Linked DNA regions of Homo sapiens. The protein of the gene in region 2 purifies or fractionates together with the protein of the main gene of each other region. This does not show direct contact. Each region holds a gene or a part of one and is shown on either strand. Other genes may lie near its edges.

The links.
Region 1: the proteins of SETD6 (region 2) and MYO9B purify together in Homo sapiens (co-immunoprecipitation; one large-scale study listed by IntAct). This does not show direct contact.
Region 3: the proteins of SETD6 (region 2) and RHBDF2 purify together in Homo sapiens (co-immunoprecipitation; one large-scale study listed by IntAct). This does not show direct contact.
Region 4: the proteins of SETD6 (region 2) and SLC25A29 purify together in Homo sapiens (co-immunoprecipitation; one large-scale study listed by IntAct). This does not show direct contact.
Region 5: the proteins of SETD6 (region 2) and TLCD3A purify together in Homo sapiens (co-immunoprecipitation; one large-scale study listed by IntAct). This does not show direct contact.
Region 6: the proteins of SETD6 (region 2) and GFPT2 purify together in Homo sapiens (co-immunoprecipitation; one large-scale study listed by IntAct). This does not show direct contact.
Region 7: the proteins of SETD6 (region 2) and SLC25A16 purify together in Homo sapiens (co-immunoprecipitation; one large-scale study listed by IntAct). This does not show direct contact.

The regions. Positions count from the first base shown.
Region 1 is NC_000019.10:17,074,586-17,078,576, reverse strand, and holds the start of MYO9B (unconventional myosin-IXb), read right to left. Parts: upstream 2,801-3,991; 5' UTR 2,703-2,800; intron 1-2,702. Other genes in the region: HAUS8 (HAUS augmin-like complex subunit 8), read left to right, coding at 3,155-3,183. UniProt on the Homo sapiens protein: Myosins are actin-based motor molecules with ATPase activity. Unconventional myosins serve in intracellular movements. Binds actin with high affinity both in the absence and presence of ATP and its mechanochemical activity is inhibited by calcium ions.
Region 2 is NC_000016.10:58,518,517-58,521,429, reverse strand, and holds part of SETD6 (N-lysine methyltransferase SETD6), read right to left. Parts: coding exon 2,887-2,913; intron 2,707-2,886; coding exon 2,401-2,706; 3' UTR 473-2,400; coding exon of another isoform or gene 394-472; 3' UTR 248-393; coding exon of another isoform or gene 113-247; 3' UTR 1-112. Other genes in the region: CNOT1 (CCR4-NOT transcription complex subunit 1), read left to right, coding at 113-247, 394-472. UniProt on the Homo sapiens protein: Protein-lysine N-methyltransferase. Monomethylates 'Lys-310' of the RELA subunit of NF-kappa-B complex, leading to down-regulation of NF-kappa-B transcription factor activity. Monomethylates 'Lys-8' of H2AZ (H2AZK8me1).
Region 3 is NC_000017.11:76,498,624-76,502,829, forward strand, and holds the start of RHBDF2 (inactive rhomboid protein 2), read right to left. Parts: upstream 2,801-4,206; 5' UTR 2,730-2,800; exon of another isoform or gene 2,253-2,729; intron 1-2,252. UniProt on the Homo sapiens protein: Regulates ADAM17 protease, a sheddase of the epidermal growth factor (EGF) receptor ligands and TNF, thereby plays a role in sleep, cell survival, proliferation, migration and inflammation. Does not exhibit any protease activity on its own.
Region 4 is NC_000014.9:100,303,645-100,307,718, forward strand, and holds the start of SLC25A29 (mitochondrial basic amino acids transporter), read right to left. Parts: upstream 2,801-4,074; 5' UTR 2,589-2,800; coding exon 2,555-2,588; intron 2,133-2,554; coding exon of another isoform or gene 2,016-2,132; intron 1,965-2,015; exon of another isoform or gene 1,007-1,964; coding exon of another isoform or gene 991-1,006; exon of another isoform or gene 374-990; coding exon of another isoform or gene 364-373; intron 1-363. UniProt on the Homo sapiens protein: Mitochondrial transporter of arginine, lysine, homoarginine, methylarginine and, to a much lesser extent, ornithine and histidine. Does not transport carnitine nor acylcarnitines. Functions by both counter-exchange and uniport mechanisms.
Region 5 is NC_000017.11:731,276-735,395, forward strand, and holds the start of TLCD3A (TLC domain-containing protein 3A), read left to right. Parts: upstream 1-1,320; 5' UTR 1,321-1,372; coding exon 1,373-1,494; intron 1,495-1,822; coding exon 1,823-1,906; intron 1,907-4,120.
Region 6 is NC_000005.10:180,304,837-180,308,336, forward strand, and holds part of GFPT2 (glutamine--fructose-6-phosphate aminotransferase [isomerizing] 2), read right to left. Parts: intron 2,468-3,500; coding exon 2,340-2,467; intron 104-2,339; coding exon 1-103. UniProt on the Homo sapiens protein: Controls the flux of glucose into the hexosamine pathway. Most likely involved in regulating the availability of precursors for N- and O-linked glycosylation of proteins.
Region 7 is NC_000010.11:68,524,724-68,528,758, forward strand, and holds the start of SLC25A16 (solute carrier family 25 member 16), read right to left. Parts: upstream 2,801-4,035; 5' UTR 2,653-2,800; coding exon 2,523-2,652; intron 1-2,522. UniProt on the Homo sapiens protein: May be involved in the transport of coenzyme A in the mitochondrial matrix. Very little is known about the physiological function of this carrier.

The DNA.
Region 1 (3,991 bases), on a different chromosome or scaffold from region 2:
ATCTGAATTCCATTCTTTTTTTTAATTATTATTATTTTTGAGGGCATCTTGCTCTGTCACCCAGACTGGAGTGCAATGGCGCAATCTTGGCTGGCTGCAAACTCCGCCTCCTGGGTTCAAGCAATTCTCCTGTCTCAGCCTCCAGAGTAGCTGGGACTACAGGCGCACATCACCACGCCGGGCTAATTTTTGTATTTTTAGTGGAGACAGGGTTTCTCCATATTGGTCAGGCTGGTCTTGAACTCCTGACCTTGTGATCCACCCACCTTGGCCTCCCAAAGGGATTACAGGCCTGAGCCACCGCGGCCCAGCTTGAACTCCATTCTTTCTGAAGAGGAAGTGCAAAGTTGTCGGGGGCGGGCATTAGCGTGTCCGTCCTCTGGGTCATAAGGATTCACCTCTGTCCCCAGGAATCTACCAAGTGTCTGGCACAATCAACCCTTGCCTAACTGAAATCTAGGCCCACCCAAGACACACCATTTGGAAGAGATGAGGAATGGGAAGCAGCAAGTTAACAAGTCCATGTGGGGAGAGAATAACGAATCCTACAGCCAAACAGAAAGGGGAGATTCCCACGTCTCTACCTGCTCCACTGAGTCACCAGACTGGACCCGAGGGACGGTACTGCCTCGGGATTTCCAGAAATTTGCAGTTTCCAAAGCTTTGGGAATAGGTGCAATGTGCAAAAGCACCTTCAACACCGCAATTTTCTATTTGGACGATGAAGAAGCGGTTGAAAAAAAATCATTTTTGGATACAAACTGTCGAATGGAAAACGGAATAAAAGTAGGATCATCGCAGCCAGGAATGGAGAGTGGGGGTGCTGTGAGGAGTTCAAGGCCGGGAGCTGGGGGACATGGACTGGAGACAAGACGGTGATGAGAAGAGTTGGGTTTCAAGGTTGAAAAACGCTGATGGAGGTCAATTCATTCATTTTGCAGGTGAGAGGTCAGAAACAGGCACAGAGACTTGACCAAAGCCAGGATCTCCAACACAGTGCTCCCCCCACAAGACCCTGCTTGGCCATTCTCTAGCGGCAGGGAAGAGGCGATTGCAGGGCTGCGGGATCAGAAGATCCCGGTCCTGTTCTGTAGGCCAGTGCAAGCCTACAGTTCAATGTTTGCAGGAGGCATGACTGTGGGCTGTCACTGCATGTCCTGGGGCAAGCCAGGCCAAAGCCACCTTTCCTAAAGGCCAGGATATTCTGGAAGTGAAGGGGGTGCTTATCTTTCTGTGGCCCTCTTTATATTCCAGCTATCCGGGTTCATCTCCTGAATGAGCTATAAACTAAACATAAGCTGGGGTTCCCCAGCCCTTCTGGCAGATCCCAGATAAAGATCCCTACAGTTGGGAAAGGGGAGAAATGAATGCCAATCAAAAGCACCCTGCACAAAGTCCCTGCCAGGGCCACAAGAGCCAGGCCTGTCAGATGTGAATAACTTTCCTGTAGCCCAGGTCACCTCCGGCTGCTCCTGGACACCTTAAGATTCTGAAGACTCCAACATCAAAAAACAAACCGAGTTGGGACTCTCTGGCTGGAAAGTGTCCCCACGGGCTCCCACCTCAGACAAAGAGGCAGAGAAGCCATCCCTTAAAGACCCCTGGCCTCCAGGGTGCCCAGGAAAGAAAGGAGGGCTCGTGGCTGTCGTGCCTCTCCAGGGCTGAGCTCAGAGCAACCGGGGGACAGATTTCCTGTATGTCGTTTTACCCATTTAAGTCCAAGGATGCAGCTCTGCGGAGGTGGCGACAGTCCTGTACATGAGGGTGCATGCACACTCCCTCCTGAAACACAGTTCCGGCCCCACAACCGGCCCTGAGGTCCCTTCCTTGGATCCAGGGAATCCCAGAATCCTGCTAGTCCTGTCTTAAGGGGAGGGTGGTGAAGTTTCCAAGACGAGGACACTGGCACAGAGGGTGTTGGGACTCGTCCCAGGTCACCCAGCTGTTAAGTGTGAAGTCAGGAGGGACACGAATCAAGAGGGGAGGGTGGGGGGACGGAATCTCCAGGGGCTGCATCTCAACATCTATCTGCACGGGGCCACTCTAACCCCTTCCTTCTCTTCCCTCCTCTCCGGGCCCTCCCTCCCTAAGCCTACCCTCAGTTCTTACCGTGACTTCTACTCCGTTTACTTCCCTTCCAGCTCCCATTTCCCCGCTTCCCAATAGCCGGCTGCCGCATCAGTTAGTTCAGAACCCCCCGCATTTACTGAGCGCCCACTGGGGGCCAGGCGCCGCCCTCTTCTCAGACACCCTTCCTTCAATCGCGCGGGCAGACGTCCCCAGATCGGTCTCGCACCCCTTCCCCTCAACCGCACCCCGGCTGTCCCGCCCCTGGCCTTGCCCACTCCCCCAGCCTGGGCCTCTCGTTCCCGCCTCCGTGCCTCCCCACAACGCCGTTTCCTGCGACCCCCCAATTACCACTTAAGCCACGTCCTCTTCAGAGAAGCTGCTCAAAGCCACAAGACTCACCCCCCCCACGCCCTCGAACTCCCTCACCAGCTCCATCCCCATCCACTTTCTCCTTCACCGTCTCGCTTCCACCTCATCCCCAGCAATCTCTCCAAGACCCCCAGGCTCGTTCCCGCCCCCTCGACCCCTGCCGTCGCGTCCCCCATCAGCCCTCAGCTCCGTCCCTCTTCTGCGCAGCCCCCAAAGGCAGGCTTCGAGCTCGAGTCGCCAACCCGAGGCTGCCTGGTACTCACCTGGCCTCGGCCGCCGCGCGCCGCCGGTCCCGGGCCGGGTCCCCGGCCGGACGACCGCCTGCCAGCCCGCCGCTGCTCGAGCCGCTCCGCCCCGCCGCGCCCGCCGCTCCCCCGCGCGCTCCCGCTTCCGGGTTCCGGAGAGGCGGGGACGGGGGCGTGACGCCAGCGCTCCTAGGGGCGGGGCATCGCGAAAAGCCCCGCCCCTACTGTCCGACAGATCAGGTCCCACCCACCGCCCCTACCCACTACCGCCGATGGTGGGCGAGACCAAGTGCGAGGGGAGGACAGGCGAAGCGCGCGTCTGGGGCCGCGCTCTCCACACTTAGCCGGCGCTGCCTCACGCCTCGCAGCCACCCCTCCTGCGTCTCCACAAATGGTCCGACCCGCAAGCAAGGGGGCGGGTCCGGCTTTGAAAAGCCGGCGGGTCGGGCCTTGAGGTGGAAGGCGGGAAAATGGCGGATTCCTCGGGGCGAGGCGCTGGGTGAGTTGGGGCTTCCGCAGGTCTGGATTTGTAGACGCCATAGGGCTGGAGAGGATGGGCAGCGGAGGTGGGGAGTTAGGACCCTCGGGGTGAGTTCGGGTTCGACCCCGCCAGGAACTGCGCGGGCCCCTGAAGACCCCGATGGCGTGCTGCCTCTGCGCATGCTCCGGAGCGCTGACACCCGACCGGCCCTGAGTTCCGCGTCCTCGGCTGGGACGCTGGGCGACCTCCGGCAAGCGGCCTGACCGCCCAGTGCCTCGCTTTCCTCCGCTACGAAATGGGGCCGATGACGCAGCTCAACCTCGTAGGCGTCGCGTGAGGCTGAAACGCGCTTAGATCGGCGCCTGGGTCTTTACTGTGATGTCGCTCTTGGAATTATCGTTATGCAGTGAACAAGTGTTGGGCGACCAAAGTGTCCCCTTTAATCCTCCCACGCGCTTTATTCTGTGCTCCCAGTTTACTGAGGAGATGATGGAGACCCAGGGAGGGGAAGTGACTTGCCTAGGGTAACACACCATGAACAAGAAAGAAGTTGAATACTGACCGAGAGCTAGGCATGAATGATCATGAGGCTATATTTGTCTAGTTTTGTTAATTCTGCCAGTGTTGATTGTGCCAGGTGCAAACTGAAGTGAAATTGGCCAGCAAGAGGAATCACTCCACCGCCCCTTGCCGTAACCGATAGATTGACAGTAGCACCTCCCAGGTACAGGTGCAGTAGCTGAGGCTCGCACAGGTTGTAGGGACCCCCCTCAGGTCGCAGCAGGTTCACCCAGGAGCCCATTCGGTTTGAGGCCACAGCCCTAGC
Region 2 (2,913 bases):
ACTTTTGCATGTGGTTCAATAGTCAGGGAGAAGTTAGAAAAAAAGTAATGGAAGAATAATCATGAATTTGTATGCTTCTATACATTAACTAGCTCTTTCTCCCTTTTTCCAGAGTTCTCTTGGAACGGTTGATTGTAAATAGGCCACATCCTTGGGGTCTTCTTATTACCTTCATTGAGCTGATTAAAAACCCAGCGTTTAAGTTCTGGAACCATGAATTTGTACACTGTGCCCCAGAAATCGAAAAGTGAGTTCAAAGTAATTTTTAATTGTCTAGGAATGAGACTGGAGACTGAAAACCATCTGTCTCTAGGTTGGGTCAGCTGAATGAGATGCAAGGTATTGTTAGGCCTACTCTTTAATCAGAGATTTGTAACTGTCTTCATCCTTCAGGTTATTCCAGTCGGTCGCACAGTGCTGCATGGGACAGAAGCAGGCCCAGCAAGTAATGGAAGGGACAGGTGCCAGTTAGACGAAACTGCATCTCTGTTGTACGTGTCAGTCTAGAGGTCTCACTGCACCGAGTTCATAAACTGACTGAAGAATCCTTTCAGCTCTTCCTGACTTTCCCAGCCCTTTGGTTTGTGGGTATCTGCCCCAACTACTGTTGGGATCAGCCTCCTGTCTTATGTGGGCACGTTCCAAAGTTTAAATGCATTTTTTTGACTCTTGGCCAAAATTTAGAAGATGCTGTGAATATCATTTTGAACTTGTGTAAATACATGAAAGAGAAAACCTTTGTCTGGAACTTCTTGGCTTTGTGCAAGCTGTGTCCAAGGCAAGTACATAAACTGGTACCTTGTAATGAAGAGGCAGCTGATGCCATGCACTTGTCTGAGGGCATAGCTCCATGTCTTCTGACATTCCTGGTGTCCCAAAGAATAGCAAAAAGCCAGTTTGAATATTATGTAACTTATTTTTTTAATGTGGACAGGGGACCTTGAAAATCACTAAGTTATTAAAAATGTGGATGTGCTAGAATTGGATATGTCCAGGAACATGGGAAGGGCTCACTATTGGAATCCCATGAGTTTCCATTTTGTCTCTACCCAAACGTATTCCAAAGCTGACTGCATTTGTACCATCTTATTTCTTTTGGGGATTATACACCTCAGCCGCCTGAGATGGGGGTCAGCTCTTTATATAAAGGGAAACCAGACCAGGCCTAAAGCCCACCCCTACCCTCACCCCCCCAATCCTCTCCTGAAACTTAAAAACAGTGGGAATATAGGAAAGGGAACCAAATCTCATTAATTAATTGTTCTCCCCCATTACCCCACTGAATGAATGGCCATACAGGCTAAGCTGAATAATGACAAAGTTGAAAGGACCAATACAGCCCCTTTTATAAGGATTTTGAATGTTTTGCAAATGTATTGGTCCCTGTGTTGTATTTTGTAGCCTTTTCCTGGGCTTCAGCTCCCCTACTTCTTGTATGTGTATGCATACTGTAGCTAACCATTAAAGTCATGACACACACATGAGTCCACTGTGCCTTTCTCAGTAGCAGCAGCCAGTGCTGGTGGTGAGGAGGAAAAGTGGACAATCCAGCCCTGCAGACCTTGGGGCCATGGGGAACCACCAACTAACTTCTTGCTGAATGATTGATTGATTGATTGATAGGTCATTCCTACTACTAAGCTGGCATGTTTAAGGAAATTGTATTTTTCTTCCTATTTATTTCAACACTGGACAAATGCTGGAGCAGGTTTATCTGGTTAAGCTGAGTTTAAAATACCCAGTTTTAATATCCTTTTCCCCCAGGTATTTTTTTTTTTTTTTTAAAGAAAATGAGTAGATACGTATTTAAAAACTTAACCCACTTAAAATTTGCCTTACCTTTCATGACTGTCAAGTTTTATGGCCAGAGAGGACAAAACAGTTCAAAATTAAATAATTGAAGTCCTCCTTGAGTGATGTCTTAGGGTTTATTCCCTGAGAGGTGGTTTGTGCCATCTAGACTGAACTTTGGGTAACTATCGAGTACCAGTTACACAGCTTATTAAATCCAGAGTCTTTTCAATAAAGGTTAAGTGACTTCCTCAAACTAGACTTAGATTTAAACCAGGGGTCTACCTCCAAAGTCTATTATTAAATGCTGAAACACAACAAGACTTACTTATTACTACCGTATGTCCACTGGCTTTGGTTAAAACTGAGAACAAAACATCTGTAACATGCTTTAAGTAACAATTAGCAGTGATTCCCAAGTCTGCTGTTCTCAATCCTAAAACACATCACCCTTACCTGAGTTAATCCTAGCACACCAACTTTGCTACTTTTCCTCTTGGTGTTTAGTAAGCAAAAGAAAGATCCAAATTTTCCTCTTTTTCAAACATCAATGAGTATTAGCTTAGAATAAAGTTCTTATTGCTGTTCCTTCAGGGAACAGGGAAACTGCTAACTTGTCAGCTCCAACAACTGATGTAAGATCATCTTCTGACCATAGCGAACCTGTAAGGCTTGCTGTTCCCTCCAGCTGAGTTTCGCATAGACTTCCTTATTACTGAGTAAACCTTGGTCAGTTTTTAAGTCTGTGGCATAGGTCTGCAAAGTCAGTAGAACACTGTTTTGAAGCAGCTGTCTCCACGATGCTTTGAGCTTGGGAATATTTGTGATCGTCAGGCTGCCCTCTTCCCTTTTATCATCTCCCCCTCCATCCTGGTCTTTAAGCTCTCTGAACTCCTCAGCAGGCATGCACAGTACCTAGAAGCAACCACAGAGCTCTTTAATTAGATGTACTGCTTTTGTACTTCTGAAATGACTCAGGAGACTAAACTCATCTTAGCATTTATTAAAAATCCCACATTTCCTCTCTCATCTTCTAGCTATTTTGCTTTAAATACTTAGATTATCAGCATTAAATGGCCATTTTCAGCCGTTTACCTTTAGTGTGGTGGTCAGCTCCTCTTC
Region 3 (4,206 bases), on a different chromosome or scaffold from region 2:
TGGAGAGGCCACCACAGTATCCAGAGCTGAGGCCACAGGAAAAACAGCACCACTGACCCCAGAGCAGGACTCGGGCCCCAAGTGCGTCACCCAAAGCATTTGTAGTGTGATTTATTCCTCCTCTTATAGGAACAAAAGTCCCCCTCCTGGGCTGGAGAGAAAGAGAGTGTGTGTGTGTGTGTGTGTGTGTGTGTGTGTGTGAGTCTGTGTGTGTCTGTGTGTTTGTGTGTGTCTCTGTGTGTCTGTTTGTGTGTGTCTGTGTGTGTGTGTGGTTACACCAGGTACAGACAGGTAGGAGTCACTGAGGGTTTGTTCGTGGGGCTCTTGGGTGGGGCCTGAGGGTGGGCAACTGGGTTCACACCCGAGCTCCACTGCCGACTTCCTGAACAACTTTGTACAAGCCTGGGTGCTCAGCCCTGTCCCTTGAGAGGCTCACAGCAATGGAGGCCACTTTTGTTTTTTGTGCAAATGAAAAGGTGGGAGTTTCACTTCAGCCTTTTACAGTCAAGAGACCAAAAAAACAAAAACAAAAACAAAACAAAACAAAAAAAACAAAAGCCACCAACACCAACAAAAAGAACCCAAGCTCGAAACCTCCACCAGGGTTCCCAGGCAAGAAGGCTGGGTCCAGAAGTGAACAGGATGGGTATAATGGCTACTGCAAGAAAACAGGGAGGGAGGGCAGCGAGGTGGCCCCAGCTCCTGGGCATGGACGTGGCTGCTTCATCCGATCCTCTCCCACCGTGCCAGCCACCCCTCCTTGTTGCCAGAAAACTGGAAGTACATTCCTCCAGCCCAATACAAACAACTCTGAGTCATCCCTACTGGGGGGCCACCTGGCCTGTGCTTTGATGTCTCCCATCTCTCACCTCTGCTCAGCTAACACCATGGGCAGGGGTGCCTCCACCCCATCAGCAGCTGGGCCCACTCCAGGGCTCGTCAGCTAACCCAGGGTGCCCTCTTTATTGCAGGACAAAAGCAGCCTGGGGACCCCCCAGGAATTAGGAGCCCTGATACTCCTTGGATGTCACTTTCAAAAGGTGTACATAATTGGAGGAGTTAGGTGTGAGTTCAGAAGGGAAAATTCCAGCAGGTCACATGGTATCAGGCAACCATGCCAGCTTCAGCAATCCAGCTTTGGGAAAATCTATGGGAAGAGAGCTCGCCCTCTGCCCACCCTCCCAGCCCAGGGATATTTGAGCTCAAGGGCTGCCTCAGCCCAGCCTTCCTGGGAGATTGCCCTGGGGTTAAGCACCCCAGGCCTGGGCTGCAAGGGGGTCCTCTGTTCCCAACCTCTCCCCCACAGCACCTAGACCAGCTTCCTGCAGGGCCAGTGGAGATTGGGAAAGGCGGTGTCTCATGGCACCAAAGGAAGACTCTTGTGAGGGGAATAAGTGCCCTCACACTGCCTTACCCCTCATCTCATTCAGGTTTATTCCAAGTTCCTCCCCTAACCACTCTGGAAAACTGAGGTAGTTTCCCCAGTGAGGGAGCATCATTGAGAAGGAACCTGATGGACCAGCTGCTGCGCAGGGTTTCTCAGCCTCAGCACAGCCCAACACCTTGGGCTGGATAATTCCTCGTTATGTGGGCTGTTCCGTGCCCTGAAGATGTCTGGTAGCGTCCCTGGCCTCTACCCACTACCTGCCAGTAACAACAACACTCACTTCCCCTCCCAAGTGTGTGACACCCAAAATGACTCCAACATTGCCAAATATCCCATGGCAGGCAAAGTCGCCCCTGGTTGAGAACCACAGCTCTAAAACACGCCTCCCTTTCCACTGCCTGCCCTACGGACAGTGAGGGTCGAATAAGGCAGATGCTGGTCTCATTATATTACCAGCAAATGGCACACACTGGGGGCCTGATGCCAGCCGCCCAGGCAACAGCAGCCTCTCCCCAAGTGGGGTCAGCTCCCCACCGCCTTCTGCTCCTCAGACACACCCGCTGCCACCCTCTCAGTAGCTCCAACCCTAGAGCCCCCTCCGTTAATCTTTCATGGAATGGGGCAGGGCCAAAACCTAGGCTTCCTTTGCGCCCTGGCGTGGGAGTGGGGCGGGGTCTGTACCCTAGGGAACTTATCCGTCTCTATCCCAATGCCCTGGGGGAACATCCGAGGGGCCAAACAGGTAAAAGGCAAGCCCAGGGCCAACCTTCCCCAGCCCCTCCATCCAGAAGTCAGGACTCCTGGGTCCAATTTCTGAGCTCCGGTCCAGCCCTGCTGTGTGAGTCCCTCATCCCCACCCCCGCACCTGTTTCCACCTTGGCTGGCTCAACCAACAAACTTCGGCCCCGGTCCGCCCGGTGCTCACCCGGGAGAAAGTGGAGGGGAGAGAAGGGTCTGAACTGCAGGCACTTCTGGGACGCAGGCGGGACTGCCCTGCGCAGTCTCCTCTCTTCCTCCGGAGGTTTAAATCTCTGCCCAATCGTCTTGCCCCTACATCTGGCGCCCCGTCGCCCAGGGACCCCTTAGGCGTCCTGTCCGAGCCGAGCCCTAGGGGCCAGCAGACCGGGTCCAGCGGCCCCGCCGGCGCCGTCTGAGCCAGCCCGGGCCTCCAGCCGAGCCCACGTGGGACCCAGGCGCTCCGCAGGGCGGGCACCGGGCACTGGGCACCCTTCCTGGCCGCGCACCACCGCTCCAGGGCAGGCTCGGGCACAACCTCGGGACCCTTCCGGCGCCTGCGGCTGGGCGGCCGTGAGTCCTGCCCCGCTCGTCGCCCCGCGCTCACCTCCCTGCGGCCCCAAGTCCCCGGGACGCAACTCCGTGCGGCGCCTGCGAGCGGCTGGGCGGTGGCTCCTCGGGGGCGGGGCGGCGGCGCTCCGCCTCTTCCCTACCTGCGCGCGGGCGGCCGGGAGGCGGGGCTGGGCTCCAGGGGGCGTGGCCGGGCTCATGGGGGCGGGGCCTGGACGCAGTCTTTGCTCAGTCGGCTTCCTGGGTTCCTGCCTCCGCCCTCCACCCAGCTGGGTCCCCGCCTGGGCAGAGCCCTGTTTTCGCCTGAGCTGGTCTCTTCAGGGCGCCGTCCTTTCCCTCTTGGCGTCCTCACTCCACCCCAGACCAAACACGTCATCTAGGTCTTGATTGCCGTCTTCAAGTCGCCCCTCCCCATCAAGAAAAAGCACCCAATCTCCCATCCCCTTCTTCCAGCGCCCTCATCCTCAGGCCAAGTGGGCCTGTTCCCTTGACCCTTTTAGTCTGTAGTCACACTCTCTCCGGGAAGCTGGGCCTGAACACCTCCTCTCCCTCCTGGACCCTGAGGCCTCTCTCCTAGCTCTGCTGTGCCCTTGGGTTGGGAACAGGCACTCCGTGGAGGTCCTATCTGCATTTGCCCTGCAGCTAAGGCCAACATTTGTGACTCCTGCCAACCCCCTACACACCCCGTAGAAGCATTGACAGAACCCACCCAGCTCTGGCCCTTCCAGCTGCCATGCGGGCCAGAGCCAGACTGGAGATTGGGGACGCTGGCGACACCTGGCCCCTTGGCTTGGGTCTGTCTGCCCAGGTGGTTCCTTCTCTCTTCCCTGGACTCCAAGGGCCTGCCTCTTGGGACTAGACAAACAAAACCTTGGCCAGGGCAGCTAGGACCGAACTCCAAGGTCTGGATGCCCCGTTCTCAGCCCCAGCGCTTATCATCTCGCCGTCCCTCTCCAGGAGGCCTGGCTAGGCCAGGAGGAGCAGAGTTTGAAGAGACTCAGGCTTGGAGGGGTGGGGGTGGGGTTGTCAGGGCCAAGGCAAAACCTCTGGCCCTTAGAGAGCTCCTGAGCCACCCTGCCCCCCAACCCAAGGACTCTGGTGTTTATTGCTGACCTGGGTGGAGGTGGGGAGCACCTGGCTGCTGGAGATTATCCTGAGAGATGCATCTCTCCTCCCCAGCTCTGGGGCCATGAGGAGGGCACAGGCTGGAAGGAGGGGGAGTGGGCCAAAGCTGGGGTGGGGGTTGCTCCTAGTAACAAATGTAAGGGACCATTTATTGTGCAACCAGCACATCCTGGGGTTATGTGCAGAGAGGAACAAAACCAGGGCCTGCCCACGAAGTGCCAGCATTCTACAGGGAGACGTTGGAACTCAATACTGTAACAGGAAGGGTGAGAGCAGCTAGCCATTCCAAAGTGCTTTAGTCTGTATAATCCGCAGTACAGGTCTATGAAGTGGGTACCATTATGATCATCCCCATTTTAGGGATGAGAAAACTGAGGCAGAGGGAGATG
Region 4 (4,074 bases), on a different chromosome or scaffold from region 2:
TCACCACCTTTCTGAGCGCACGAGGAGGCCTCCAGTCACACCAGCAGAAGCGGAACCCTGTCTCCCAACTCCAAAGCCTACTGTCTACTGTCCTCCCTAAGCTGGGCTCCGGAGGCAATCCCCAACCAGTAGTCCTCAGGGCTGGGCGGGGTGGGGAGGAACCACTGTCCTGGGGATGGCTGGTAGCAGAGGTAGTGGAAGAGGCACCCTTCCCTCTTGGGGTTACCTCTCCTCCCGGGTTCTCCCACCCCTAGCTGAGCTTTTCTCTCTGCGCCTGCTTCTGTCCATCCAGAGCCCAGTGTCTATGTGGCCTCAAGATTTGGGTTGATCCCCCAGTAGGGGAGAGGGGGAGGCATTCCAAACCTTCCACCATGCAAGGCCTCAAGGATGCTGTCAGTCAAGATGCTGGCCCCGCCTCCCTGAGAAGTTAAAACACGTGACCCACACTAGGCGAATAGTAGGGGGTGGACAGTCCCCCTCCCCAGCCACCAAGGAGAAGCACTGGCATTATCTGCCCTGAGCCTGTAGGTTGGGGGCACCCCAAGAAGGAGCCAGGCAGGGGCTGCTGGGGTACGGGTCCCAAGGTGGGGTGCCTCTGGGCAGGCTGTCAGTGTGACCCCAGCTGTGCCAGGGACCTGGAGCCTGGGACACAGTCAGTTCACTGTCCTGAGGGGCCACCCCAGCACCCTGGAGTAAGGGGGAGAGGAGAGGACTGCAGGCTCACCCTGGCCATCAGAGGAGCATGTGGTGTGACTTTGCTTTAGTACCCCCACCTCTCTGGGCCTAGGTTTCTCCGATGAGACCAGGAGTGAGCCCCCAGGTGACTTCTGTCCTTGTCCACCTGGGAGGCTCAGGCTTACGCTTGTAGAGCCTTAGCTGGGTGGCCATTATGTGCCTGGGGGTTGCACGAAAAGCAGGGCCTGGGGGCAGGGGGGTGGCCTGTGCCCCAGTGCTACAGCACCAGACAGTGCCAGTCCTTGACCCACAAACCTGGGGCAGGGGGCATGGATATGATCTCTCCCAGGTGGGCCTATGAGGATGGGCAGCGAAGGACATTCCAGGCAAGGAGGCTGCGCGAGCGACGTGCAGAGGAGACCACAGATGTGCCGGGAGGCGCCAAGCAGGCCTGCTTTCAGGTGAAGTGTTCCTGCCCCAAACCCCGGTGTTTCCAGGAGGGCAGCACGGACGGTAGCGCCACTGCAGAAGGAACTCTGCCCATCCGGGGAAAGAATCCCCACTCCCCAAAGCCTGGAAGGAGGTGTTGGCCTGGGGACAGCCCTTCACCCCCACCCGCTGGAGCTGATAGTGGGTGGGGAGCAAGGGTGGAGCAAACAGCGAGATCAGAAGCGGGAGGGGAAGGTGAGAATGGAATCCGCAGAGGACACGCCCCCTCTGTCTCCAGGGCACCCAGCGATTAGCAGCAAATTCTGGGCTTTGTGCCCCGCAGCTTCCCACTGGGTAACCGACCGGGAAGTTCTAACTCCCCTCAGCGCACAACACCTCCCCAACACACTCCCTTTTCAACGAGTCTCTCCCCCAAGAAGCAGGCTCCGACGCCACAGATTTAATACTTAAGGCCACCGCTACCCACTCTTCCGCCAGGGCTCTCAGCGCTGGCCGGGAGCTGAGGGTTTATTCGAGCCAAATCCAAGTAGATGAAGAGGCGGTGAACAAGGGCAGGTGCTGGGAGAAAAGTGGGACCAAACAGGGATAAGCGGCCGGCCCTCTCAGCAACTCCCGCCGCCAACCACCCTCCCCCGCCCCCGACATCTAAATCCTGGTGAATAAATTAACCCTCAAGGTAAAAGCAGAGAAGCCAGAGGCCCAACAGGGAAGTGCCGTGCCCGACGCCCACGGTCGGGGCATGGGAGAGCCTGGACTGCACGCCCGCCCGGGCCCTCCCGGGGACAACTGCATGGGAGGAACCCCAGAGCCGCGACCGCGCCTCGGAGAAGGTGCCCCACACCGGCTCGCCCGACCCACCCACCACCCCCCTTCCGCCCCCAACAGCTCACAAAACCGCGTAGGAAGGGGCGGCGTTCCAAGGCGTGACTCGGCGCCAGAGTGGTTCAGTGCCCTCCAAGGCCAGCCGAGTAGGGGGTCGGCTCCGTAGCCCCAACCCCGCTGGATGGCTGCGCGGGACGGGGTGGAGTCAGTCCCGAAATATACGGCCGGGGGAGGGGACCCTGCTCCCAGTGCGCAACGGATGGGGATGGGGGAGGGGAAGGAGATGAGCCCGGGACCTCGGCGCGGGGGGCAGTGGGGCATCCTCCCGGCAGTCCTGGCCTCCGCTCAGCCACGGTGCTGCCCCGGCGCCCCAGACCTCCCGTCCGAGCGTGCCCAGAGAGAATAAAGACACCTGCCCTCGCGGACAGCCCGGGCCTGAAGTCAATTTACGCCCACGAGACCCGCCCGAGGCAAGAGAACTGTGGTCCCCATTCACAGACGCGGCGACCCCCGCCAGCGGGAAGCCGCGAGGCCAGGGCGTGCTGGTGGGCCGACCTCCCTCCCCGGACGCCTCGCCCCGGCCCGGCCCGGCCCGCCGCCTCCTTACCCCCCGCGCATCCAGCCAAGAAGTCCAGCGCCATGGCCGGGTCCCCGGCGAGGCCGCCTTTCCTCCTCGTCCTCCCCCTGAGGCCCCTCGCCGGGCTGGGCGCCGTCGGGGTCCCCGAGCGCGCGGTGCCGGGGCTGGGCCTGGCCGCTCCTCCTGGCGCGGAGCCCGGGCAGGCGCGGTCAGGGATGGTGGGGATGGCGGCAGCAGCTAGACCCGCGCTGGTCCCTCGGCGGCAGCTGACTCGCTGGATCCCCTCCGGCCCGCGGTCCCTCACCTCGGGCCGCGCGCCCCGCCCCTCGTGCCTGCCGGCAGGGCCCGGGTGGGGGCGCCGAGTGAGGCCAATGGGCGGGCACGGCGCGGACAACACCCCGGGCACTGCGCTTCGCCGCCGCGCCTCATTGGCCGGGCGTGCGCGGGAGGCGGGGCGCGGGGGACGTGGTGGGCGCGCGGGCGGGGCGCGGGGACGCCTCAGACAAAGAGCGCGCTGGGTGCGCAGGTCCGGCGGGAGGGGACGCGCGGGGTGGCGGGGTTGAGCCGAGGACTCCCCCACCCGGAGTACGCGGGGTGGCTCTGGTCTGGACCGGGTCGGGAACCGGACCCTGGGTTCGGAGTCCGGCGCCGCCGCAGAACCTCAGCGCCCTAGTCTGTGCCGTGCGGACCCTGCCGCGAAAACGGCCGTGGAGCGCCGGGACGTTCCGAGGCCCGCAGACTGGGACGCCGCTAGTTGCGAAACTCCGCGAGCGGGAATCGCCCGTGGGGAGCCTCTGCCCGTCCCGCCTGCGCGCCCGCGGCGGCGGTGGCCTCCGGGGCTTCCGGACTCCTGGCCGAACCCGCCGGGTTCTGGGGGTCGGACGCGCACGGGCGCTTCCTGCGGAGCCTGAGGCTGGGATTTGGGCGGAGAGCAGGGAACCTTAAAAGGGAAAGGGGCCATGGGCAAAGGGCGCAGCAGGCCTTCGGGCCACAGCTCCTTCCCGAGGACTGCGGGTCGCGGGAGCCGCGGAAGGTTGTGGAGAGAGGGAGGTTCCTGGACTGGGCTGCAGAGTGGAGTCGGGCCAGATCGCAGCGCCTCCGTCAGCGGCGGCCGGACGGGGCGAGACCGGAGGGGCTCGGTAGGGGCCGCGCTCAGGCGCTGAAGTCGGAGGGTGCTTGGCTCTGGGTCACCAGGGTATCCATGGGCTGCGGGGATGAATGAGAGCCGAGTCTGACTCGGCCCCCCAGGAGTCCCTGACATTCGCAGTGGCAAGGGACTGCCCTGGTCCCTGTGGAGCGTCCCATTCGGTGACTTCCCACCAGCCCTTCCCCAGCGCCTCTGGAGGTCCAGACTGTCAGGTTGGAGCCTGGGAGCAGGGACGGGCCAGGCGCTTTCTCTTCGCTGTAGGAGTCAGATCAGCCTTAGGCCGGGCCCAGCTTCCTTCTTTAGGGCCTGCAGGCAGGCAAGGCCACACCGTGTGCCACGTTTCCAGGTTTAGGGTCACATGGTTCTTTTATCCAAATTCCAGTGGGTACCTACCTCCTGGAGG
Region 5 (4,120 bases), on a different chromosome or scaffold from region 2:
GAGGAGACCCGTCATACCTTTCATTTGTAGTAACATAAATGAACTGTATTTCCCACCCCCTACGTTTGTTAGCTGAGGAAGATACAGACCAAAGCAAAATAAAGCTGGTAGTTCCTAAAGGACAGAAGCCAATGATACTGAAATTCCTGTCTTCATCCATGTGATTGGTGCTTGGCACAAATGAAATGTATTCCAATTCATTCAAGTTTAGACGCCTGTCCCGATAACTGTTTTTTTGTTTGTTTGTTTGTTTGTTTTTTGAGACAGAGTCCTGCTCTGTGGCCCAGGCTGGAGTGCAGTGGCGTGATCTCGGCTCACTGCAACCTCTGCCTCCCAGGTTCAAGCGATTCTCCTGCCTCAGCCTCCAGAGTAGCTGGGACTACAGACAGGCACCACCACACCTGGCTAATTTTGTATTTTTAGTAGAGACGGGGTTTCACCGTGGTGGTCAGGCTGGTCTCGAACTCCTGACGTCAAGTGATCTGCCCGCCTCGGCCTCCCCAAGTGCTGGGGTTACAGGCGCGCCCGACCCCGATACTTTTAAATAACGACACGTTGTGAACAACACCACAGTCCCTACGCCTCTGGATGGTGTCTCCGGATAGATCCAAAGCCGAGAGGCAGTAAGAGCCTGCAGCCTCCACAGTCCGCCTCCTGGTGCAGGTGGAGAGGGGCTGCTGGAGGCCCCCGGACCTCACGCTTCCTGAGGGCCACCCCGGAGCGGCTGCAGCCGCTGGCGGCACCGGGAAAAGCATCTCGGCCGTGCGGGGAGAGGCCACATCCTGAGGCCTCCCACCGAGAAGCACCAGGGCTTGGTGGACGGGGCCCGCGAACCCAGGGCCACACGCCGCCTCCCTCCTTCCTTCCCCGCGGGCCTCGCCCCACCCCGGAGGGGGTTCCTACCTGGCTTCCTCGGCCCCGCGCCCACCCCGCCCCTTCGCCCGGGGCCGGCGAGAAGAGCAGGTCGGGGAGGGGCGCGTCCGCTGACGGAACAGAAGCCGGGAGCCGCGGCCCTTCCCGCCTCCGCCTGGGCCCCGCGGCCGCTCGGGAGGGAGCGGCGGACTCGGAACGCGCGCGCGCCGCGGCCCCGGCCACAGCCGCCGCCTCGGTCCCCGCCTCCGCCCCCGCCCACCCGCCCGCCGGGGACGCCGGGGAACCCTCCGGGCCCAGGGACCGCGAGAGACCCCGCCCCGCCCTATCGCAGCCGCCGGGCCTGGTCACGCGCAGAGCCGCGCCGCGGGATCGGGGCCAGCGCCGGGCGGAGGCGGGACGGGGACGGGGGCGGAGGGTTGAAATCGCGCGGCCGGGCCGGGGCGCGCCGAGCCGAACCCAGCCACGCGGCGCCAGCGAGGCGGCCGGACCCGCAGCCCCGATGCTGCTGACGCTGGCCGGGGGCGCGCTCTTCTTCCCGGGGCTCTTCGCGCTCTGCACCTGGGCGCTGCGCCGCTCCCAGCCCGGATGGAGCCGCACCGACTGCGTGATGATCAGCACCAGGTACCGGCGCCGCCGAGACGCCCCCCGAGGCCCGGGGCGCTGCCCACCGCACCCCACCCGGCCGCGGGGCCCAGGGCGGAAAAGGGGGGCGGCAGGAAGCCCGGGGGCTGCTCCCTCCGCGTCCCGGCGGCCCGAGTTTCCGAAGCCCCTCCGCGTCCTCCCCTGGCGGGAGCGGGGCCGGGGCGGGCGGGAATGGCCGATGAGCCTCCGGAGCCCGCTCCCCACATCTGCCTGCGGCTGGGGAGAGTCAGGCCGAAGGGCCGGGCCGGGCTCCCTGCGGTCCTCGGACCGGACTGAGCGCGCGCGCTGTTCTCTCCGCCCGCGCTAGGCTGGTTTCCTCGGTGCACGCCGTGCTGGCCACCGGCTCGGGGATCGTCATCATTCGCTCCTGCGACGACGTGATCACCGGCAGGTAAGAGCCCGGGCCGGGGCCTTGTTGCAAATGTCACATTTCAGTAGCTCGCAGGCTCTGGCTCTCGCAGCACACGCGCTCAGAAAGCTGACTAATGGGAAAAGCTGGCACCACAATGGGCTCCTTCTTCCTCTCCGGAGTCTTCGGGCACCCCCAGCTTAGGAGAAAGTCCACGGAAATGAGGGAGGACGACAGAGTCGGAGTCTGATTTCAGGTGGTGTGAGCCAGGGATCCAGGTCCTTCATGGAAGAGATAAGCGTGGAAGCATTTACGACTGGGAGTGTGGCTTGATTCTTGCAGTTGGCTTCACTGGGTTCTCACTCTGGAGCATCACTGGCTAACAGACGTCCAGTGTGGTTAGCAGAGCCCCCTCCATGGAAAGGAACCAACCCACCACCCCCTTCCACGCAAACGCCGCTCTTGCTTTTCCTGCAGATTTGCTAAAGGTGATTGAGAGGTTCCCAGCGCTTAGAACACGGACTTGTACGTCTATCAGAGGTCAGTCCAGAGGCAGGTCAGGAAATGTGCACCTATCTGCAGTTCCAGTGAAACAAATCATAAATTAAGACCAGAATAGTCGACTTTGTACAGTAGTTAGACCTGGACAATGGTGGTGCTTTTATTATTTCAAGCCTTTTTTTTCCCCACCGGTCTTGCTGGAATCACACTCACTTTCTCCCAAGTTGAAGGACCACAGTCGGATGTGCAGGAAGTTGAACGGCCTTTCCAGGCCCTGCTCTCCTGTGGGCTCTGCCAAGTCCTGCTTCTCACCTGCTGAGACTGAACTGCGAGGGGCCTGAGCAAGCTGTCCGTCTCACTCTAGCCTGCGGTCTTACCTGGGATCAATCCTGCTGTCATGATTTTTGTGCTTTTCTTCTGCCTTTTTAAAAACAAAACTGGCTATTGGCGATGAATAAGTAGATGCTACGATAGATCAAGTGACATCGATTGTAGACACCAAAGGTTAATATTGGTGTGGCTGGGTACAATTTTTCTTCTTCTTCTTCTTCTTTTTTTTTTAAAGACAGGGTCTCACTATGTTGCCCAGGCTGGTCTTGAACTCCTGGGCTCAAGTCATTTTTCTGCCTCACCCTCACAAAGTGCTGGGATTACAGGCATGAGCCACCACACCCAGCAAATTTTTTACTTTTTTTTTTTCCTGTCGAGACCTCAGGCTGAGGTGCAGTGGCATAATGACAGCTGACTGTAGTCTTGAACTCCAGGGTTCAAGCCACCCGTCTTCCTTAGCCTCCCAAGCTTGGACTACAGGCACACACTACTACACCTGGCTAACTTTTTTTTGTTGTTGTTGGTAGAGACAGGGGTCTCCCTGCGTTGCCCAGGCTGGTCTTGAACTCCTGGGCTCCAACGATCCTCCTGCCTGGGCCTCCCAAAGTGTTGGGATTATAGGCGTGAGCCACTGCACCCAGCCAAAAAAGGCCTTTCAGGGTTCATATACTATATACTGAATATTTTTCTATTATATGCCTTCTCATTTTATGCCTTCACATAGAATGCGATTAGATAGAAGGAGTTAAAAATCCCCCCAAATTATAGGCAGAAGGTGGTATGGGGCCAAGGATTTAGTCAGATTCTTAAAGGATTCAGACACTAAAATGACAAAGTCACAGCTCCAGGTGGTTTTCTCAATTTAAGTACTTAATTCAGATAGTACGTTGTTGTTTTAGACAGGGTCTGGCTCTGTCACCCACGCTGGTCTGAACTCCTGGGCTCAAGCCATTCTCCCACTCAGGCCTCCCAAAGTGCAGGGATCATAGGTGTGAGCCACCGTGCCCAGCCTGTATAGTACCTTTTAACATTTAAAAGGACTCCCCCTCCCCGCCGCCTTTCTTTTTATTGAGATGGAGTCTCACTCTGTCACTCAGACTGGAGTGCAGTGGTGAGGTCTCGGCTCACTGCAACCTCCACCTCCCAGGTTCAAGTGATTCTCCTGCCTCAGCCTCCTGAGTAGCTGAGGTTACAGGCATGTGTCACCACGTCTGGCTAATTTTTGTATATTTAGTAAAGCCATGTTGGCCAGGCTGGTCTTGAACTCCTGACCTCAGGTGATCCATCCGCCTCGGCCTCCCAAAATGCTGGGATTACAGGCATGAGCCACCGTGCCCGGCCGACTTTCCCACATTTAATTATTTAATCTTCACTGCAGTTTTGACAGGTAAGACAGACAAGGATTATCATCTTCATTTTACAAAG
Region 6 (3,500 bases), on a different chromosome or scaffold from region 2:
CCATGATGACGGGCATCTGCTTGTCAATCAGTGCCAGGGGCCCGTGCTTCAGCTCCCCAGCCAGGATGCCTTCTGAGTGCATGTAGGTTATCTCTTTAATTTTCTGGAAACAGGAGGTGAGATCAGAGTCACACTGGGCAGATGGGGCTGGAGCAGATCAGCCAGAGGGGAAGAAGGGGAACCAGGGGAAGGATGACTCTGGAAGGCAGAGAGCCAAGGGTTGCAAGGCAGACAGATGCCTGGAGTGCTTGACAGCACTGAGGACACCCAGCAAGGGCCTGGGGAGAGGCCTGGCTACCATCCAGAGCATGCACCAGCCCGGGACACAACCTCTGTGTCCCCACACCAGCCCCGGGCACTGCTGTTGTCTCTCTCCAGTCCCACGCACAGCCACCCCTTAGGACAAACAAGTCGGAGTCAGCCTAGCTCACCCCCTGCTCCTCCCTAGCCAGCCACGTGTATAACGACAGCATCGTATTCAGCTTAGCTACACCTTCAGTTAATTATCTGATTAAGCATTTGCCCATTAATAACTTCTAAAGAGTGGTTCCAAGCAAAATCACACAAACTGGGGTGTTATTTGAATTAATTTTTTTCCTGTGTTCAGGTAGATCCATCTCTATTCAGTTACCACAAATCCACGTCATTGAAATGGTGAGACAGTCAAATAAATCATCTCTCGACTCCCCGCTAGCACTGCTGATTTAGGTCAGGGCCACACTGTAAGGAGTGCGGCTCCAGTCTGGAGGCGCAGACAGCTGCAGTGCCGGCCTCCCAGTGACCAGAGGACCATGGGCTCGTGCCAGCAGCCACCTAAACGCTTCTTCCTTCAGCAGACTCATGCGGAGGCATAGCTGCAATGTGCATCTCCCGCCAGCACGTTCAGCCACCGCAGCTCAGCCCCCACCCATGACGCAGAGTCATCTGGGGACTGACAGTGCACCCCAGGCCTTGCCTCTACTGCACTCCAAGAAGCAGCACCTGCCTGTTCTTTAACAGGAGTCAGAATCTCCAGGGGGCAGGTGCAGGAGATGGAGCTCAGTGAGGACAGCCCTGCACTCCCCACCAAGACCAAGGAAATCAACTCTGAATGTTTCCGGTAACCACTTGTAACTGGCATTGTCTTTCTTTTTTTTTTCTTTCTTTCTTTTTTTTTTTTTTCGTTGAGATGGGAGTCTCGTTCTGTCTCCCAGGCTGGAGTGCAGTGGCATGATCTTGGCTCACTGCAACCTCCTCCTCTTGGATTCAAGCGATTCTCCTGCCTCAGCCTCCCATGTAGCTGGGATTACAGGCGTGCACCACCACGCCCAGCTAGTTTTTGAATTTTTGGTAGAGATGGGCTTTTACCATGTTGTCCAGGCTGGTCTCGAACTCCTGACCTCAAATGATCTGACTGCCTTGGCCTCCCAAAGTGCTGGGATTACAGGCGTGGACCACTGTGCCAGCCTAGCATTGTCTTTCAAATGGGGGTGGTGGGGAGGAGATGGGAGAGGATGGCAGCCCAGCTGGGCCACGGTTAATGCCCTCGTCTTGGTGGCCAGTGCAGCCTCAGCTGGAGCACTGTCCCCGTCACCTGGGCTGAGCATCTGCTCCGTGCATGGCATGCTGACAGCGAGGAAAGGGCAAGTCCGAGATGCAGGACCCTGCACGGCTCTCTGCCCACCCTCTGGGCAGCCCTGTGGCCCTGGCACCCTGTCCCTGCCCCATCAGCTTTCTCTTTCCTGGCGTGGATCTTTAATGCTGCAGGGGGCAAATGGCCTGTCACCAATTTTTGAAAAAGCAAGGCCTTCGAAGTTAATTCCTGCAGGATCTCAAACTCCCCTTGGAAGTTTGAGGGGTAACAAGGAAACTCTGCGGAGAACCCACCCCTCAATTTTGGTGGAAAAAAGCGAAGGCCCCATGGACTCAGGTCTGATTCGGGTCCCCTACGTCATCTTGAGTGAGATACTTAAGCTTTCAGAGGCTTTGTTTCCTCCTGAATGAGGGTGAATAGCAACCGCCAACCTCTCAGAAGCAGCTCATGAGGTCTGAGTGAGCTGTTCCAAGTGGACCCTGGCAGTGCCTGGACAGCCGGAGGGGCACACCCCAGGCGCCCTGTCCCTTTCTCCTCAGTAGATTGGGAGATCCCTGGGGGCAGGCACCTGCCTCACCCATCTCTGTGTGCCCAGGGCTAGAAACCTGGTGGAGAGCTGGTGCTCAGCGCAGGCTCACAGGACTGGCCAAGGGGTCCTTAGGCCCGGCCCTCCCCAAGCCCAACGCCCTGCCCTCCTTCCCGCTGGCTCCTCAGGGTCTCCTGTGCCTGTCCTCCGTGGGGGTGGGGGCTGGGGGTGGGGGCTCACCAGGGCTCCTTCCAGGCAGGTGGCATAGTTGTAGCCCCGCCCCATCACCAGCAGCGATCTCTGCGTGTAGAGCTCCAGGGCCAAGTCGTGGATCTTCTCCTCCAGAGACAGCACTTCCTTGATCAGCTCTGGGCCATGCACGGAGCAGAGGGAGAAAACCAGTCAGGCCGACTTTAAAGCAATATTCATGAAGACAAATGCTGGGGTTTAAGAGGAGCTTTTGAAACCGCATCACTTAGCACACTTTGCTTCCTCGCATTCGTTTCAAACGTAGATTACAGGAAATAACTTGGGCTCCTGGCCAGGATTCTGTTAGGATGGGGATTCGTGTTGTGTGAACACTTTCTTGAGCACCAACAAGGTAGGAAGTACCATTTCTCACTCCGTTTTGCAGGTAAGACAACTGAGGCTCAGAGAGGCAAAAATCACCCACTGGAGACAGAGCTGACACCACCAGTTAACACCCCTCTTTCCTGCTGTGTCTCAAGACAAGGCCCCTGTAAGTGGGACCACCGGTTCTCAAACCCTTTGGTCTCAGGACTCCTTTACACTCTTGAAAATTATTGCAAGTCCCTCAAATTATTGCACATCCCCAAGAGCCTTTGTTTTTGAGTTAAATCTGTCAACATTTACCAGATTAGAAAATAACACTGAGGACCAGGCGTGGTGGCTCACGCCTGTAATCGCCGCACTTTGGGAGGCCGAGGCGGGTGGATCATGAGGTCAGGAGATCGAGACCATCCTGGCTAACATGGTAAAACCCCGTCTCTACTAAAAATACAAAAAATTAGCCGGGCGTGGTTGGGTGCGGTGGCTCACGCCTGTAATCCCAGCACTTTGGAAGGCTGGGGCAGGCGGATCACGAGGTCAGGAGATCGAGACCATCCTGGCTAACATGGTGAGACCTGGTATCTACTAAAAATACAAAAAATTAGCCGGGCATGGTGGCGGGCGCCTGTAGTCCCAGCTACTCGGGAGGCTGAGGCAGGAGAGTGGCGTGAACCTGGGAGGCGGAGCTTGCAGTGAGCTGAGATGGCACCACGGCACTCCAGCCTGGGCAACAGAGCGAGACTCCATCTCGAAAAAAAAAAAAGAAGAAAAAGAAAGAAAGAAACTAACAATGAGAAATTTAAAAATATTCACTTTAAAATAACAACACTA
Region 7 (4,035 bases), on a different chromosome or scaffold from region 2:
AAAAATTAACTGGGCATGGTGGTGCACGCCTGTAATCCCAGCTACTTGGGAGGCAGAAGCAGGTAAATCACTTGAACCCGGATACGGAGGTTGCAGTGAGCAGAGATCGTGCCGCTGCACTCCAGCCTGGCCGACAGAGTGAGACTCCATCTCAAAAAAGAAAAAGAAAAAAAATTAGCCAGGCATGGTGGCATTCCCCTGTAATCCCAGCTACTTGGGAAGCTGGGTCAGCAGAATCACTTGAACCCAGGAAGCAGAGGTTGCAGTGAGCCAAGATCACGCCACTGCACTCCTGCCTGGGTGAGGGAGTGAGACTCTGTCTCAAAACAACAACAACAACAAAAAAAACTTAATACTGCTGCAGTCTTCAGATATTATCTTTCTACAAATCCTCATAATGTGAGGTTTTTTTTGTTTTATTTTATTTTGTTTTTGAGATGGAGTGTCTCTGTCACCCAGACTGGAGTGCAATGGCAGGATCTCGGCTCACTGCAACCTCCACAGTGATTTAGGCGACTCTCCTGCCTTAAGCCTCCTGAGTAGCTGGGATTACAGGCGAGTGCCACCACGCCTGACAAATTTTTGTAGTTTTAGTAGAGACAGGGTTTCACCATGTTGGCCAGGCTGGTCTCAAACTCCTGACTTCAAGTGATCTGCCCACCTTAGTCTCCCAAAGTGCTGGGATTACAGGCGTGAGCCACCCTGCCCAGCGAATTTTTATTGTTTGTTTTTGTTTTTTTCTTCTTTTAGGAGAGGGTCTCTCTCTGTAGCTCAGGCTGGAGGGTAGTGGTGTGATCATGGCTTACTGGAGCCTCGATCTCCTGGACTCAAGCAGTCTTCCTGCCTCAGCTTCCCTAGTAACTGGGACTACAGTAGTGAGCCACTGCACACAACTTCAATGTGGAATTTTTAAATTTTTGAATCTTAAATAATTAAGTAATGACAACCTGTGGGGAAAAGCAAGAGAGATCAGATTGTTACTGTGTCTGTGTAGAAAGAAGTAGACATAGGAGACTCCATTTTGTTCTGTACTAAGAAAAATTCTTCTGCCTTGAGATTCTGTTAATCTATAACCTTACCCCCAACCCCGTGCTCTCTGAAACATGTGCTGTGTCACAGAGTTGAATGGATTAAGGGCGGTGCAAGATGTGCTTTGTTAAACAGATGCTTGAAGGCAGCATGCTCCTTAAGAGTCATCACCACTCCCTAATCTCAAGTACCCAGGGACACAAAAACTGCGGAAGGCCGCAGGGACCTCTGCCTAGGAAAGCCAGGTATTGTCCAAGGTTTCTCCCCATGTGATAGTCTGAAATACGGCCTCGTGGGAAGGGAAAGACCTGAACGTCCCCCAGCCCGACACCCGTAAAGGGTCTGTGCTGAGGAGGATTAGTATAAGAGGAAGGCATGCCTCTTGCAGTTGAGACAAGAGGAAGGCATCTGTCTCCTGCCTGTCCCTGGGCAATGGAATGTCTCGGTATAAAACGCGATTGTATGCTCCATCTACTGAGATAGGGAAAAACCGCCTTAGGGCTGGAGGTGGGACCTGCGGGCAGCAATACTGCTTTGTAAAGCATTGAGATGTTTATGTGTATGCATATCTAAGAGCACAGCACTTAATCCTTTACATTGTCTATGACGCAAAGACCTTTGTTCACGTGTTTGTCTGCTGACCCTCTCCCCACAATTGTCTTGTGACCCTGACACATCCCCCTCTTCGAGAAACACCCACAAATGATCAATAAATACTAAGGGAACTCAGAGGCTGGCGGGATCCTCCATATGCTGAACGCTGGTTCCCCGGGTCCCCTTATTTCTGTCTCTATACTTTGTCTCTGTGTCTTTTTCTTTCCTAAGTCTCTCGTTCCACCTTACGAGAAACACCCACAGGTGTGGAGGGGCAACCCACCCCTACACAACCCAGAGAAGTAATTAAGGAAGGGTGGAGCTTGAAGGCCCAGGAAATTCCTAAGAGACAATATGAACTTTTTGATCCCAAAGTCACATCAATAATAGGGCTTGTCAAGTACTGTGTCACAGTTTACTAGAATCACTGGAACCAGTTTTGGCTGTAGACAGTTTGCACAATTTTCCAGTAGTCATTAAAAAGCTGATCTCCAATATTTGTTTTCCTTTAAGCAAACAGCAAAATCCAAGTCTACACTGGGTCACTCACGGTTTTTATAAAAGAAAGGAGTGCCCAGCATGTCTCACTAAAACCCCAGGGTCTCTGTAAGGGATCCTCCTCTTTTCCCTGTTATCCAGCCCTGAAGAATGGGTGCCTGATTCAGACCTTCCACCTCCCCAGCCTCTGCCGGAGTGCCAAAGGTCCCACTCCCCATAACCTAGCTGTCATTAGTCAAGTGATTACTAGAAAGAGGTTACAGCAGGTCAGGGCAGACATCTAACAGAACATTGAAGCAGCCAGAGTCCAGGAATGTCATAGAGGCCGCTTGCATCCCACTTGCCCACAGTCCTGCCCCCGCCACTCAGAGCGCGGCTGGCTCTTCGTGGCATGGACCCACCTCCGGCCAGAAAGGAGCGCAGCCAGTAGAAGTCTCTGCGGGTTGTGGGCCCTCCGGCCCCTGCCGCCTGCGGCATTGCGGGAGGGGGATCGGCCGCCGCCAGGGCTGCCGCGGCCGTCGCCGCCGCCATCAGGACCAGGGTCGCGTCAGGAGCCTAGGTTGCCAACTTACAGAACACCGGACGGGACCATAGCCGGAACAGGCGGTGACAGGAGGCTGACCGCCCCGCCGGCGGGGCAAAGTAACACCCGGCGGCGCGGCGCCGGCTGATGGCGTACAGCAAGGGCGGGGCCTGTGTCACGCGCCAAGGGGCTCTGCCGGGAGGGGCGGGGCCAGGACGCGGAACAGGGCGTCACCCAGGCTCGTAAACTCCTCCATCCCGCCTCACCCGGCGTTGCCACTGTCAGTTCACTGCTCAGGCCCCTTCTGTTCGGACGGAAAAAGGAAACGGTAGGCAGTGAGATGGTCCCATTAAAACCCACAACCTGGCCGGGCGCGGTGGCTCACGCCTGTAATCCCAGCACTTTGGGAGGCCCAGGCGGACGGATCACTTGAGGTCAGGAGTTCAAGACTAGCCTGGATGCCGGGCGCCGTGGCTCACGCCTATAATCCCAGCCCTTTGGGAGGCTGAGGCGGGCGGATCACAAAGTCAGGAGTTCGAGACCAGCCTGGCCAATATGGTGAAACCCCGTCTCTACTAAAAATACAGAAATTAGCCGGGCGGGGTGGCGGGCACCTGTAGTCCCAGCTACTCGAGAGGCTGAAGTAGGAGAATCACTTGAATCCAGGAGGCAGAGGTTGCAGTGAGCTGAGATAGCGCCACTGCACTCTAGCCTGGGTGACAGAGTGAGACTCCGTCTAAAAAAAAAAAAGACTAGCCAGGCGAACATGGTGAAACCCCGTCTCTACTAAAAATACAAAAAATTAGCCAGGCGTGAGGGCGGGCGCCTGTAATCCCAGCTACTGGGGAGGCTGAGGCAGGAGAATTGGTTGAACCCAGGAGGCGGAGATTGCAGTGAGCCTAGATCGCACCATTGCACTCCAGCCTGGGCGACACAGCGAGACTACGCCTCAAAAAAATAAAAAATAAAAAGGCCCACAACCTTAGAAAGCTCTCTCCTGTCTCGTCCCTTGACCTATATTGACCACTGACCAGTAATCGCCTATCGCGCTTTTTTTTTTTTTTTTTTTGAGACGGAGTCTCGTTCTGTTGCCCAGGCTGGAGTGCAGTGGCGAGATCTCTGCTCACTGCAACCTCCACCCCCTGGGTTCAAGCAATTCTCCTGCCTCAGCCTCCCTAGTAGGTGGGATTATAGGCGTGCAATACTACCCCTGGTTACTTTTTGTATTTTTAGTAGAGACGGGGTTTCCAACGTATTGGTCAAGGCTGGTCCGAACTGCTGACCTCATCGGATCCGCCCTCCTCGGCCTCCCAAAGTGCTGGAATTGCAGGCGTGAGCCTCTGCGCCCTGCTCTCGGAGCTGTATTCTGACCTCCCTAAGATGCAGCCTTT